Regions from separate parts of the Homo sapiens genome. Here region 2 is linked to region 1. Evidence: fine-mapped expression QTL. Tissue or cell type: testis. Region 1 holds a variant in brackets; the other region holds the start of a gene. All regions are shown on one strand. Distances are between the middles of the regions.

Region 1 (8,110 bases):
TTGTGGATCTTGAGAAAAAGCTTTCATGAACTGTGCAGAATCGGATTCTCTTCAATTAGATATCTGTCTGTCTCTGTCTTTTTGTTCTGTCTCTCTATCTCTGTCTATCCATCTCTCCCCTTCCTCTAATATCAATCTTTAAAAATTATGCCATGCTCAGTCTCAAAATTCTACTGACTGAATTTAAAAGTTGTTGTCAGTGTCAATTTAATTCAATTTCTATTGGCTTAGAGGTTTTTTCAGAAGCAGGCATAAATTTCAGAAACTTCTTTTCTTCATTAAGATGTGTAAGACAAACGTATTGGCTATAGATTTTTTTCAGATAGTATAAGAAAATTCAAAAAGTGTACATTAGATAAATCCAAATGTTTATTCCTATTCATAAAGCCCCTTGAAAACTTTTTAGAGCATGCCTACTTCTATGATTGAAGGAAGATTCCTAATGGAACTAGTAAACTGTCATTTGCAAAAGTCTAATCTTTCATATTATTTTTTACTTTATTCTGTGTTTTGGACCTATTAACCAATAACCTAGAATAACCTCATTCATTCAAGCTCAATTTATAAAAAGCTGTTCATTAATGTTTTCCATAGACACATACATACATTTATATTTTTAAATTAAACTTTTAATGTTGAGATAATTGTAGGTTCACATGCAGTTTTAAGAAATAATACGAAGAGTCCAGGCACGGTGGCTCACACCTGTAATCTCAGCACTTCGGGAGGCTGAGGCGGGTGGATCATTTGAAGTCAGGAGTTCAAGATCAGCCTGGCTGACATGGTGAAACCCCATCTCTACTAAAAATACAAAAATTAGCCTGGCGTGGTGGCACTCATCTGTAGTTTCAGCTACTTGGGAGGCTGAGGCGGAAGAATCGCTTGAACCCGGGAGGTGGAGGTTTGGCGACTGCAGTGAGCCAAGATCACAGCACTGCACTCTAGCCTGGGCAACAGAGGGAGACTCTACCTCAAAAAAAAAAAAAAAGAAAAAAAAAGAAATAATACAAAGAGATCCCATATACTCTTTACCTACTTTCTCCTAATGGTAACCATTTGTGAAACTACAGTACAATGTCACAACTAGAACATCGACAATGATAGTCAATACCCACATTTCTGTCACACAAGTTTCCCTTATGTTGCCATTTTATAGCCACCTCAACTTCCTTCCCTCCCCCACACTCTTTTAACTCTGTAACCACTAATCTGTGCTCTATTCCTATAGCTGCAATTTCAAGAATGTTGTGTAAATGCAGTCATATGGTATGTATATACATTAAATGTTTTTTCCTGTTTTTAAAAACAGGCTTCTTCAGGAATTAGACATAAACTCATAGATAACATTTTTAAGTCAACATGGTGACACATTGGTCTGATTTTTTAAACTATCAGCTCACCCCACAAAAATTCAATATTTTCATTTATAAAGACTGATTTAAACTTACTGAATTAGATTGGATTCCCTGAAACTGATTCTGAACTGGAGACTTGTATAAAGAAATTATCTTGGGGTTTGGTCTGAGTAGTCACCCTGTAAGGAAGTGAGGAGGGCAGGATTGGGCAGGACGAACTGCCCCACAGAGCAGTTGCAGCTGAGGCCTCAGCACATCCAATTAGGTATTTGGGGACCAGGAAATGATCACTAGGTGGGTTGAAGTACCCAGTGGATTGAGTGGACTCAACCTGAGCCAGAACCATGCCACAACCTCATTTATTACCTTGCCCCCTATGTTCCCCCTCTAAAACAAGCCATGGTGGTGCTTTGATTCCCCAGATATCAATGACATTTTAGACCCTGCGTTAATAATCCTGGAAAGGTCTGAGTAGTCCGCTTTCTCCAAAACATGGTTACCCAAGTAAATGGGCCATCAATTCCTTTAGGAAAGGACTGGGAGAATTGCTACTGAATACGTTTGATGCAATGTTGTAGCGTTCATCCTCATAGGGACCTGGTGTTTCCTTTAGTCAATAGGTTCTGAATTTGAGAACTGGCTTGGGTCTGGACAATAAATTGTGACTTTACCAGAGTAGTTGCCTTTAGCTTTCTGATCATCTAAACATTCATCCTTGATTTTTTTTTTTAAAAAAGAGCATAAATTAAGCAATATCCTTATTGTCTGCCCACTTCTTTTGCCTCTATGAACACTGTGTTCCAGGAACCATCTCCATGTTTCTCTGAGGGTTGAGGAGCCCTAGTTGCCATTCCAATCTTGCAATTCATCAAAATAATTGTGCTCACCTTGGTTTTGATGGTTAAGTGTCATCACTTGGCCTCTTTTATCAGGATTCTGGAATAATCCCTGCTCTGGCAATACCTCTTGCTATCAGCCCTGGCCTGTATACCACTGAGCTTCTCAATGATGCAGGTGTTTCTTTATCTACTACATTTCATATCAATAACTTTGGTAAATGGAGTATACTCTGGGCCTTTTCATAAACAGTTGTCTGGGAGGTTTTCTGGCTTCACATAGCATATCCACTCTAACATACCCCTTTCTCTGATATTTTATTTATTATTTTATTATTTATTTATTTATTTATTTGAGTCTGGCTCTGTCGCCCAGGCTGGAGTGCAGTGGCGGGATCTCGGCTCACTGCAAGCTCCACCTCCCGGGTTCACGCCATTCTCCTGCCTCAGCCTCCCGAGTAGCTGGGACTACAGGCGCCCGCCACATCGCCTGGCTAATGTTTTGTATGTTTTGTAGAGATGGGTTTTCACCGTGTTAGCCAGGATGGTCTCGATCTCCTGACCTCGTGATCCACCCGCCTTGGCCTCCCAAAGTGCTGGGATTACAGGCGTGAGCCACTGTGCCCGGCCTACTCTGATATTTTAAATTCTTTTCCCCCTCAATAATATAGCAATTCTGTAATTTCTACTTAGTGTGAGCCATTGATTTTCCAAACTTCTAGGGAACAGTCTAGCAGTGTGTTACCATTGTTTGCTGGTGTTAAATCCCCCAGTAGCTGAAGGATGAGTAAATCAACCCTGAAGAGGGGATTTGGGTGGAACACAACAGTATCTACTCACTGCCTTACTCCAAATCACACTATACCTGCCGTCATCTCCTGTACTGGCTTTGCAGTGGCTTTTGTCAAAAGTGATACAAGCTTATCTGATGGCATGATCTCCAAATAAGTAACTCAAGCAACATAATAAACAGAATTTAGAAGACTACAAGCTAGGAATACAAAGATAAACAAAGTATATATACAGGAGAAAGATTTAAATGATGTGACAGAATTTGGGGGAAGGGCAACGACCATCAGCAGAGTAATGAGTGAACAGGTAAGGGGGATGC[C/T]TCTAGCCAAAGAGAAAAGTTAGCTCCCGTATTTAAATAACCATAATAAAAAAAACCCCAACAATGCAGAAACCATATTCTTATAAGCATAGTGTGCTGAAGACTGTCCATTATTATCTCGTCTTTTTGATTCAATAGAGAGATTATAGTCACCACTGCTAAAACTATCTCTTATTATATAATACAATGATAATAGCAACGATTTATTGAATGTTTGTGGTGCTAAGTGCTTTATAAAACACTACCTCCTTATATACCCTTGTATGCATGTGAAGGAGTGATGACAAGAAAATGTGACCCTGGTCAAAGTTGCCACCTTCGTGGTTCCGTACTTAATACAATGATGTTGACTACTGTAATTTAAACAATGTCGTCGCTCTTATTTGTGGATTGCTGTTGGAGACCGTGGAACATAACTGTGAAGTCCTAAAATATGGTACACCTTCATTCTTCACAAGAGGATTTCGTATTTTGAAAACAGTCAAAGTCATCCAGGGCCCAATTTGATGAATAATTTGGAAAGATATTCAAAATAGGTAATGTAATTTTAGTTCTTTAAAATAAAAGAGAGTTGGGTTTTTGACTATTAAGCAGTAGTAGTCCTAATTTTGTTGGAAGTTTGGAAATCAACTCTAAAGCAGTTCTCAAAATACAGCTGAAGCAATGACAGCATTGTTAGAATGACAGTGACCTCTTAAGATAAGTACGTAAAGATTGACACTTATTTGGATTACAAACCATTAATTAAATTTTTTCTGCTTCGTACACAGACAGAAAAGTGGAGAGGAAATATTATGTTGTTTTTTTAAATGGGAAGGTATGTTTCCTTAAAGAGCAACTTTACTCATTTCCTACTCTTAAGTCAAATTTGCTTTGCTCAGTCTATTTTGTCACATAAGGTTCTGATAGGCTTATTTCCATATACTTTATCTTTGGAATCTTGAATTATGTTACCATTCCTTAGCAAATGGAAGCTATATTCTGAGTTTCCATAATATATTTCTTCATTTTAAGTGCATGTAATATTATCCAGATACTGGTAACAAATAGAAAAACAAATTTCATATTAAATTATTTTAAATTTACAACTTAATTGTTAAATTACACATTGAAAAAATTTATACATTGAGCATGACGTTTTGGTGATTTTAAAATTTCCTATAAATTTGTCTTTTCACCTTTATTTTTATGTATTTTGTCACTTTTAGTAGTAGGTGAGTAAGTTTAATTCTAACATTTGATGATAAGGTCTCTGTAAAAGACCTTGGTGAAAAGGATACAGGAAATTTAAAATATACCTACATACTAACAAAGAAAAATTTAGAGCATTTTATGAACAGGTGAAAAAATGACAATTAGGAAAATAAATCATATCCATATTCTTTAAGAACAAATTCTCTCTTGAATGGTCTATCACAGGTAGACTGCTGTGCATGTAAGATGCTGTATGTTAAGTTGCACTGAGAACTTACAACAATTTTCACAGGTGTGAAGGTGCATAGGCAGGTAACTTCAAACCTGATTGTGTCAAATGTCATGCTTAATTAAAACGTGTTCCTTGCAAATTCAGATCTAAATTTAGACATAAGAATTTATCCTCCCTCCCCTGTCATTCTTGGAAAATCATACATTACAGTTTTGGGGCTTGACGAAACAACTCAGCAGAAAAATTCATTCACCTCTTATTGAAAAAATATGTTTTTTCTCCCGCTCAATTTCCCTTCTTAACATTTGCTGGATTGCACTGTTGAAACATATCCTATAGCCACAGTCCCTGATGGCTAAGAAATTGACATGTTATTATTCTAGAAACTGGTTATTGCTTTTAAACATAGATGCAATTAGTTGCATAAAACACTAGAGTAAATTTGTGTAGAAATAGTTGATTATTATTTTGTCTATGGTCACATTAGCATGGTTTATTAAGCATTTTGATTATAGTACTTTAGTAGTAATAAATTTGCTTATCATTTAACAAGCTGAAAAATATATTTTAAGTATATATATTTGTCTTAAAAGAAATGTCAAAAAGGAGTAGTGATAATTGATTTTCTTTACTGGGCTATTGAAATTTTAATCACTAGATGCTGAAAAACAACCAGCTTTCATGGTAAATATCAACATTAAGAATTTCTGCACATTTTCTGGTTAAATCTAAATTTAAATGTTGAGAGAGACAATTGTAAAAAGGAATTAAACGTTCTGAGAAGAATAAAAATAAATGAAAATACAAAAATGCACTTTAAATGGGGCTATTCTTTTCCAAGGAGAAAAAAAGCGGGGGGTGGTGGTATTCTTTTTCAAGCAAGCAATCTCTTGTAAAATTCACTTTGCAGCTTCTACCCGAATCATATAGCAAGATTTCCTCATTCGCCAGACTGTGGAAATAAATCAAGGACCTTTGTCCGTGCTACTAAATAATGTCCGTGATATCACACACTCAGCAAAGATGCCTTCTTTTTCAGCTGCTTTGCTGTCTAACTTGCTCTGTATACTAATGTGGTTCTGAGATGATTGTGTGAGATGTTGATATTTGGGAATGCTGCTGATCAGCTTTCTGTTTTCAGAAATCGCACCAAAGACTTGAGGTTTTAGCGGAATTGATAAGAGGAAAGCCACATAAGAGCCCTTGCTTTGATGCACGTAATAATAGCCAGCAAAACCCACCCTGTGCAGCCTTGAGAGCAGCCCCACTACTCTGAGGAGTACTCAGTTCTTCGGGGCTGATTATGGCTTATTGAGGCAGAAAACTTCTTCGAGTTCAAACTCTTTGAATTCCTTGTTCACTCAATAGTGTGTCAAAAAAGAGCATTCAATGTTTCATGTCACAAAATCACCGCCGGCCTAAATTGTTCCTATTTCTCTTTTGCATATGGTGCGCAAGAAAATTTTCAACACTCTTCCGTCGGAGCACCGTAATGCTTTGATATGGGTAACATTGCCATAACAGCCTGCATTAAGGAACTTATATTTTATTCTTCTTTTCAGTGTACATAAAAATCCCAGCTTAGTCCTTTTTTGTCTTTTAGATCCTTTGAACTCTTTCAAGCTATGTTTCAAGACTTTCTGGGCTTTGACGGGGCTGGGCATTCACTGTAAAAGCAGTCAATGCCTCAGTGAGACCACAAGCAAAACTGTAAGTGTCTTAAGCAGAGACCACACAACTCTTGTGAGTATTTGCATAATTTAGCAACTCTGTTGAGTGTGAATCTCAAAGCAAAGAATGCTGCTCATTAATTTCCTTCATTAAGTATCTTGGGCCATATCCCTTTCTGACCAGAGCATTACCTGTATTGGATGCTCTGGAGCTGGTATGCATATGAATACACACTGGAATATAGGTGTATGTATGTGAGGATGTGCTGTGTATCAGAGTCCTAGCTCGACATTATCATTAGAGAATATGTTTACACTGCGGTGCGAAATTCTAGAATAAAGTGCTGATTCAGACGCAAAAGTGTATACCCTGAAGTAGCCAACTGTGGGCTCAAAGAGAGCAAGGCCAAAGCTGGACTGCTCAGTTCATTTTCCAGTTCAGTAGCTGTAGTAATCCAGCTTCGCCAGCTGCTAACAAGATTGGGTCTGAAGTTTACCTCCACAATGAGATAATCAGATTACCAGCCACAAAGATCAAATAATGACCCAGCTTTCGAGCAAGTTCAGCAGGCCCTTGATAACACTGTGTGGTCCTTGAGGCTTGATTAAAAAATTAAATGGCTAAACTTTGCCTCAATATTTTGCATTGGGATTTTGAGTGACTTGATGATTCTTTTCAAGGTGCACTTTCCTATTCTTCTGTTGGTTTGAAATTAAGAGGTAGGAGAAAAGGAGGATGCTCCCGCTGTGCAGTTGTTCTTGAGCTGGGCTTTAAATGAAGCATGTAGAATTTTTAATTTGGTGGTGTAGGGAAGACAAGGTAAATTCAAAATCATCCGCGAGCAAGGAGTTGGGCTGTAACAAAAACAACCTTTGCGTCTGCTGAATGTTGTTTCCCAGCACTGTGCCTCTGGACCAGAATGGATTTGGTCTTTCTCTCCCAGGCCAAAAATGTTTGAAAGTTTTGGTTTTGGCTACTATATGATAGCTGTTTTCAGTAGTAAAGGGATTATTCTGAGAGGCATACAAATGTGATTGTCTCACAGCAGATGGTGCGCACTGCTTCACCTTTGAGAAAAGTTAATTAAGCCAAGCATATTGTGCCCATAGAGAGGAAAATGTAGATGAATATTGAGCAATCAAACTCAGTGTCTCCTTTTTTCATGCCTTTGCAATGGGACACAGAATCCCATTGAAAAAGAATTATGTACAGAATCAAATTAATTCACATCCAACTTTACTCTCTTCCCACGTTTTAACAGGGGTGCACACCAGGCTCTTCAGAAGTTTTGTCCACAATCAATGAGCCACACTGCGGTGTCCACTAAATTAAATGAACCAGTGCAGAAGAATCTCTTGTGAGATATTAAAAGGGTGAAAGGCTGTTTAATTCAAATCCTTCCGTAGAGTCTTTTCACAGCCCCTTTTCCATAGTACAGTGTAAATTATTAACTAACTCCTTTCATCTTAGATCAATTTACAAAACAGAAACAATTACCCCTTGTTAATGAGAGTGAACACTTCTAATAATTATGAAAGTTGTGTTTGATTCTGTTTCCTCACAGGTCCTTGTTTACAATCTAATTTAGAGTTGTGTGCAGAGTGAAATAAAACAAGAATTGAGGTTGAGAATTTGAAAAATGGCTGGTCATGAAACAAATGGGCTTTGCATGTTAATGAACATTGAGGAATGCATTAAAATATGCCTAACT
Region 2 (8,110 bases), 780 kb before region 1:
TTTCTTGTCCAAATCTGACAATAAAAAACACAACACATTTCTGGCTGTCATCTGCAGAAAAATAGTCTTGAAACCTCAACATTTCTTGGTTCCTGCTTCTCTAGAGCCATCAACACTAATTTTTCTTTTTTCTTTCTTGCTTTTTTAGATACAGGATCTTGCTCTATTGCCCAGGTTGGAGTGCAGTAGTGGGATCACAGCTCACTGCAGCCTGGAATTCCTTGGTTCAAGCCATTCTCCTGCCTCAGCCTGCCAAGCAGCTAGGACTACAGGCACACACCACCACACCTGGTTAGTTTTTAAAATTTTGGTAGAGATGAAGTCTCGCTGTGTTGCCCAGCCTGAGACTAATTTTTCAATATCAATTTCTACTGACTAATCAGGGTGTAAAAGATGTGGATGTTACAAAGTGAAGAAAATTTTGGTTATGTTGGATACATCAGCTAGAACTCATGGCATTGGCTGTAATAGCATTACCATATGTCCCAGCAATTCCACTCCTAGGTACATATCCAAAGGAATTGAAAGCAGGGACTTGAACGGAGATATTTACACACGAATGTTCATAGAAGCATTATTCACAATAGCCAAAAGGTGGAAATGTGGAAACAACTCAAATGTCCCTTAGCCAGGATTACAAATGGATAAACAAAATGTGGTATATAAATACAATAGAATATTATTGAGCCTTAAAAAGGAGTAAAATTCTGATCCATGCTACAACATGGATGAACATTGAAAACATTATGCTAAGTGAATAATCCAGAAATAGAAGAACAAATATTGTATGATCCCACTTATATGAAGTACTTAGGATAGGTAAACTCATAGAAATAGAAAGTAGAATAGAGGTTACCAGGAATTAGGGAAAGGGGAAAAGAAGGAGTTCCTGTTTAATGGGCAGAAATTTCTTTTTTTTTTTCTTATACTTTAAGTTTTGGGGTACATGTGCACAACGTGCAGGTTTGTTACATAGATATACATGTGCCATGTCGGTTTGCTGCACCCATCAACTCGTCATTTACATTAAGTATTTCTCCCAATGCTATCCTTCCCCCAGCCCCTCACCCCCCAACGGGCCCCAGTGTGTGAAGTTCCCCTCCCTGAATGGGCACAAATTTCTTGTTGGGGATAATGAAAAAGTTTTGGGTATGGATAAGAGTGATGGTTATACAACACTATGAGTGTATTTAATGTCCCTGAATTATACACTTATATATGGTTAAAATTATAAATATTACGCATGTTTTACCACAATGAAAGAAAGAAAGCGCGCCTTCTAGTGGGAGCTGGGTGCAGAGAGAGCTCTGTATTCTTGGCTGCAGCTGTCTAGAATGGAGCCTGTCTTGCTAAGCTGGAACTTGGGAGTCTTGGATAAAATACCACAGAGCCTTGCCTTTCTTACCAAATTTTTGTATCTCTTTCTTGAAAAGATGTTTCTTCTTTTGCTGTTTGCCCTTAGGATCATTTCCAGAGGGTCTGAGTCATTTTTCTAGAATTTTCACCAGTTTCACTGAGAAGTGAGGTAGCAAAGCTCTTTATGCAGTCATGCCAGAAGTTGACCGGGAAGACTATATTTCAAATGTTAGTTATGTTATTCAATTTGGAGGATTGCTTATGACATTGTTGCACTGGTTGTAAAATTAAATCTTTAGGATTAAAATGTTTTCTTGAGAAATGTGGCAACATTACTAAAAACCATGGTAATCCCTCCCCCCAAAATGGGATTTTTAGTAACTTTATCACTGTCCTGAGGCTTCCTTTTAAAAACTGCAGCTTTGACATTTTTATTACATTATTTTAAGAGAAAGTAAGGCTCTATAGATTCCACATGCATTCTTGAATAAATGAGTGAGTGAATGAATGAATGTTTTTGTTTATGAACATGGTGGCCATTTGCTACTGTGTGCTTTGACAGTAAGACTCCCCTGTACCTGCCTGTTGCTGAATTCTACAATTCTATCACTCAAACCCTATCTTAGTTCAAGCTGCTATAACAAATTACCATAGGCTGGGTGGCTTAAACAACAAACATTTGTCACAATTTTGGTGCCTGAGAAGTCCAAGATCACAGTGCAGGCAGATCCGGTATTTGGCGAGGGCCTCCTTCCTGGCTTGCAGATACCGTCCTCCTGTATCCTCACATGGTAGGAAAAGAGCGAGCTAACTCTCTGGCCTCTTAAAAGGGCACAATCCTACTCATGAAGGCTCTACCCTTTTGAGTTAATTACCTCACAAAAGTCCCACGTTCAAATATCATCACATCGGGGGTTAGAATTCAATGTATGAATTTCAACACATTGAGGGGTTCACTATAACAAATGCACTGTTTCGTTATTTTCCTCTATGCAGTCTATGGAAAGTAACTTTCCTCTCCAGTATTTTTGAGAGGAATGATAATTCAACCTTTCTATTAAGAATAGTTTATGCAGTCAAAATGTTATTTTCTCCAAGAGACAAAGACTTGTTATTTTATCAGTATCCAAATAACTGGCTCACCCAATTACTGGAATAATTTTACATTTCAGAGAAGGTGAAAGAAATTAATATTCATGAGCATTTACTGTGTGGTAGGACTACTGCAAATATTATTTTATTTAACCCTTGCAGCAGTATCTAGGAGTTAGAGCTTATGAGTATCACTGAGGATGCAGAATTAAGACTTAAAGGTTGGGTCTTTTCCAAGGTCATATAGCTAATGAACAGTAGAACTGCAAGAAAAAAGAGAACAGGAATAGGGCAGTCAGACAGCAGTAGGTTGGCCCTAGATGTCACAGGTGGGGGTTTCCAAAGGAAAGATAAATGTCTCTGTAAGAAAAGCATCATTGATTCGTTGCTATTTTATCATCTACAAAACATTCCCTGCCAAATCTTCAGAGGACAATTCTAAAGAAACTTAAAAGGATAATTTATAGTTTGTTCATGTTTACAGCCTAAGAACACATTATTGCCCTGTTTTTATAAATTCATGTTGGCTAAACACATTTAAATATCATTGTGTTTTAGAATATTTATTTCTGAAATTTAACTTTATTTCTGAATCAAGTTCCCCAGTAATACCGACCTCATGAGTGCCACTGTGATATTTTATAAATAATATAGGTAAAACACTTTTTAGGTACGAAGAGACCGGAAGTCCCAGAGCTGAGGCCTGGCTAACTTTGATGAGAAAGGCAGGTTGGGGTATGTTTGTGGAGTGGTGGTTGTGGGGGTAGAGAAGCAGGTTAGCTTAGGGAAAGGGTACCATTTAGTAGACCCTTAGAACCCAGGATTAGGAGCTGTATTTAAAGAGAATAGACACAGTAAACTGCAAGAGATATATTCAAAACCAGTTATAAACTTTCGGAGAAAAAAAGGTAGGAAGGGAGAGGTTGGGGGCTTGGGCGATCCATTGCTTGGAGCTCGGCTTAGCCAGGCTTGGCGGTCCTCAGAGGGGCTGATAAATCGGCGCTCGACTGGCCTAGGAGCTGTCCGCAGGGAGGTGAGGAGAGGGGCCCGGACGCCCGCGGGGAAGGTGGGGACGGGGGCCCGACGCCCGCGGGGAAGTGGGGACCCAGCCGAGCCGTCCGGGCAGCGGTCGATCTCTAGAGCCGTCTGCCGGGCAGGCAGCGGACGGGCGCGGCGAGTTGTTGGTCACCAGGCGTCTCCAGGCCGCCGGCCCGCGCCAGCGCCTCAGCCGCATTTCCAGTCAGAAAGCGGTGAGGCCTGCGGCGCGCTCGGGCGCAGGGCGGGCCCAGCTCCCCGCGAGGTGGGACCGGCTGGGCGTCCGGCCCGCCCCTAAAGTCGGCTGATTGGTGTTCGGTTCCTGTGTCTTGTGTTCCGGTGTGTGGCGCCCCCTGAGCGAGCGCTGGGGGGGACGTACCCATCTGTCTGAGCCGCGGGTTTCACAGCGGTGGGAGGAAACGGGACCCGGGGGGTGGAGTGACGCGCCCCAGCGCCCCGTTCTTGTGCCACTCTCGGGGCCCTAAGGCCTCTGCCTTGGATTTAGGATATTCTCCTTAGGAAATCCACAGAGCTGTTATTTTGCTTTAGGTGCTGATTCGGTCCCCAGCCGGACCCTTCCAGCCAGCCCTGTTGGTGCCTGGGGAGAGGGGGTGAGATCTGGGGCTCCGACAATTGTATGGTCCTTTCCCAGGCCGAGCCTCGGAGTAATTTGTTCCCGTTGATTTTTCCTTCTTTGTCAGATTCTCTGCAGTTATTTGTGACGGTCGGTTATTCCCGTAAATGTTGGTCCCTACTTCTTCCTTAACTCACAAAAATTTCTAGCAAATCAATAATTTTTATCTGAGTTTCTGTACTTTTAAAATAAGGAGTATGTTTCTGAGTAAAAATTGTAAGAAGTAATAGGCCTGCAATTTTATACAATAAGTTTATACAATAATTGTATACAATAATTTTATACAATAAGTAAAGATTACAGAAGACAAAATGGTGAATTGTCATTAATATAACTAAAGATTAATTGTATCTAGTTGTATTAATATTTAACTAGAGATTGTCATTAATATAACTAGAGAAGGTCGGCACCGCAAATTATGTAGACTCAAAAATAGCTTAAGTATTTTAACAGTGATTATAGCAGAGCAGACACTTAAAACTACCTGGGATGATATTGTTTATTGTGTTTGGCAATCTAATTTTGTGCCACGTGCTGAAACTAAAACTTTAATAATAAATAATAGGAACTTAAAAAATCTGAATCTAAACCTAGAACTTTAATTAATTTAAAATAGCATCCCCTCACATCACAAACTCATACTGAACTGTAGCAAGGTCCCTTTTAGGACCTGTGTTTCTTTTTTAAAAAAAGATTTACATAATGAAAGTGCCAAATTCATCATCTTTTAGAACCTTCATGATTTTATTTACATAAATCCTGAACTAGAAAAAAATTTCACATTTTTTAACTGAACGTTGAAGATTGGGGCTCAAATTTTAAGTTTCTAAATTAACAGAAAATTATTTTTATTTGACACTATTTTTATAAACTGGTTCTTGCTAATGCATTTATTCCACAATGCATTCTTATGGACCATTTACTGTGTGCCAGGCACTATTCTGGGTTATTGGAACACATTAATGAGCAAAAAGTCCCTGCTTGCTCTAAAGGGAGAAACATAATAAACAACTAAGCATATACTATAATGTTAGTTATCAGTTCATGCTATGAAGAAAAATAATGCGGAATGAGAGGATGCAGTTTTAGATAAGGGGTGTTTTTTCACAGGAGTATATAAGAACTAAAATATGTACATGATATTTTTATTCTGAACCCAAACAAGTTATATTCTTGTATGCTAGAACTAGAAATCAAAAATTCTTTTGAAAATATTTGCTGTTTGTATAGGAGGTTTTTGTCAGTTTATGCAACGCTTTTCTTCCCAAATGTTTTAAATTTGTAGTTTTGTTGTCTATTTGTAGTTGCTTTAGGAAGAAAGTATTCAAGTGTATAAATGTTAGCCTTAAGATTTTTGACTTAAATTCTGAGGTAGCAAAGCCATATGAAACTGGTCTGGTGAGGTTTATTTTAGGAAAAGTTTCTTTTGTTTGAACATAGTTTTCCTAAAACTAGAAAGGGAACATTTTATTTGTTACTTTTTGGGCAATATAAAAACATGATTAACATTTTCATTTATACTTTTTCAGATAATTGTTTTCAAGTTCTGAAATTGTTTACTTAAAGCTGTTAAAGACTTCGCATATTTCTGAATGACTCCCTCTACCTCCTGCCCTATTATCCTAGGCTTCTATTTTTCGTATAGTCAAATTGTTTTAGACATTTATAGAACCACACTAGTTTGTTTCATTTTTACTACTTGTTTTTGTTGGTAACTGATTAATAGATAGAGAAAAATGAAGAGGGCAATTATATTAAACAGATGGAAGGGGGAAGAACCCAATAACGAAAACAGTGAAAAACCCCACAATATTCTATATCAGTAAGAACAGCCCTGAAGTATATATACAGGTTTAGTTCTCATACAGTAGCATTTGTCAAGTGTTGTATGTGGAAACATTCTCCCTTCCCCATATCACTCCCACTTGTATCTCATCCCCACATCAAGGAGGATTCAAAATTGGAGAGACATAATCTGACTTGGTAATGCGTATTTCTCCACTAGATGGCATTAATAGAATTTCTTTGATTGTAGTTTCTATCTTGAGGACAAATTTACAATGTATTAACTAAAACAGAAGAAACAGAAATGTGATTTATGTTTTACAGTTTGTTCGTCTGATTTTATGGTTTGTCATATAGAATGTTCTATGATGTTTAAGAATTTAGAAAAAAATAGGATATGCAGGGAAAAATAATTCTAATGGGAGCAATGTATGTATCTAGAGACTAGTTTTTTTTTTTAATCACATTTGCATCTTTGTTCAGCCCCAGATTTTTGTTATGTTCAAAGGTGGCCAATGCTGAATGTTTTTATCCTTTATGTTTAGATAATATCTCTGAGTGCAAAAATTATCTTTTAAAAAAGAATGTAAACGTGTGTAGTATATGCATTAACTCATATAAATAAATATGCATATGTATGTTAAACTTGTAATTTTTTTATTTTGAAAAAGTTCAAACCTATGAAAAAATATTATAATGAACCCCATGTACCTATTACATAGCTTTAGCTTTGATCAACTCATTGTCAATATTATTTCAATACTCCTTCATCTCTCCCCTTTATTTTGAAGCAAATCCCTGCATATGTACATAGTATATTGTTAGAGGTGCACACATTCACAATAAAATGTGCTGTCCTAACTTGAAAATAATGGTGTGAACAAAGTATTAAGAGCCCAAGAAGACTGATTAATTCTGCCTTGAGGAAGAAGACAAATTCAGAAAAGCCTTTGAAGAAGAAATGACATTTGACCTATAACTTGAAGGATGGTTAGGAATTTGCCAGTTGGAGAATGGCAGAAAACACATTCCAAGCATTGGAGCACTATGAAGAGAAGGGAGCAAGTGTGAATCCATGAATGAATGGAAAACAGAGAATAATGTATGTGAATATTGAGGTGCTTTGAAGGAAGTTGCAGACGATGAAGCTGGAAGGATAGTCTGTGGTTATATTTTACAGGAGACTGTGGAAAATTAGTGATTATACAGAAATATTTTTTTACATCTTTATAAATAAAATATAAACTACTTTTTCCATATTTTGTAGATTTATGACAAAGTCCAGTTTTCAACAATGCTGAAATCAAATGATTGCCTGTTTTCTTTGGAAAATTTGTTTTTTGAAAAACCAGATGAAGTTGAAAAGTAAGTCTCCCTTAAAGATTGATAGCATAGTATATTACTTTAGGGTTTTTTGAATTTGGGTGAGTTTTAGCTTTCTCTCTGGTAAATATACAAATAAAAATGAGGAATCAACAGAACGATATTTCAGTTACATATTTGGTAAACATGGAATTCTCTTACCAGTAGTATAGGGGAGTAACTGAAGTTTAACATCTTAAATGTTATAATTTTAAAAATAGAATAGATTTGGGCCAGGCGCAGTGGCTCACGCCTGTAATCCCAGCACTTTGGAAGGCTGAGGCGGGTGAATCACCTGAAATCAGGAGTTCAAGACCAGCCTAGCCAACATGGTGAAACCCTGTCTCTACTAAAAGCACAAAAAAATTAGCCAGGCCTGGTGGCGCATGCCTCTAATCCCAGCTACTTGGGAGGCTGAGGCATGAGAATTGCTTGAAGCCCGGAGGCGGAGGTTGCAGTGAGCTAAGGTGGCGCCACTGCACTCCAGCCAGAGCAACAGAGTGAAACTCTATCAAAAGAAAAAAAAAAAAAAAAGATTCTTGCCTATTTGGCTTGCATTTATTTGTATTTCTGGTTTGTTCAGATTATTTTTGGCCAAGCTAAAGATGGGAAATAATGCTCAAAGAGTAGCTCAGGACAAGGAATGACGTCACCATCTGGAAACAGAATGGACAGTATGCCAAAGGCAAAGTATGATAGGCACATTAAATGCTGGCAGGAAGTAGGGGCGGGAATAAAGATGTGAGACCAAAGAAAACAAGACTAGAGAGTAGGTAGTATGTTAAATACTGGCTTTTATGGATTTTCATGTGCATTGTTCAATTTTGAATTTTCTGTGTATTTTTA

What was found. PIP is the estimated chance that this variant, and not a neighbour inherited with it, causes the effect.
Region 2: HFM1 starts here. The variant in region 1 is fine-mapped to the expression of HFM1 in testis (GTEx, PIP 0.98).

The regions. Positions count from the first base shown.
Region 1 is chr1:90,621,658-90,629,767 of GRCh38, reverse strand. No RefSeq gene overlaps it. Among named protein-coding and RNA genes, the nearest start is that of SNORD3G, 32 kb to the left of the region's middle. The variant C/T (reference allele first, on the strand shown) is at 3,303.
Region 2 is chr1:91,400,169-91,408,278 of GRCh38, reverse strand. HFM1 (helicase for meiosis 1) reads left to right here and starts at 3,442. Exons shown (of 39, transcript NM_001017975.6): 1 at 3,442-3,481; 2 at 7,170-7,267. The coding sequence starts at 7,197. RefSeq lists a silencer at 3,468-3,847.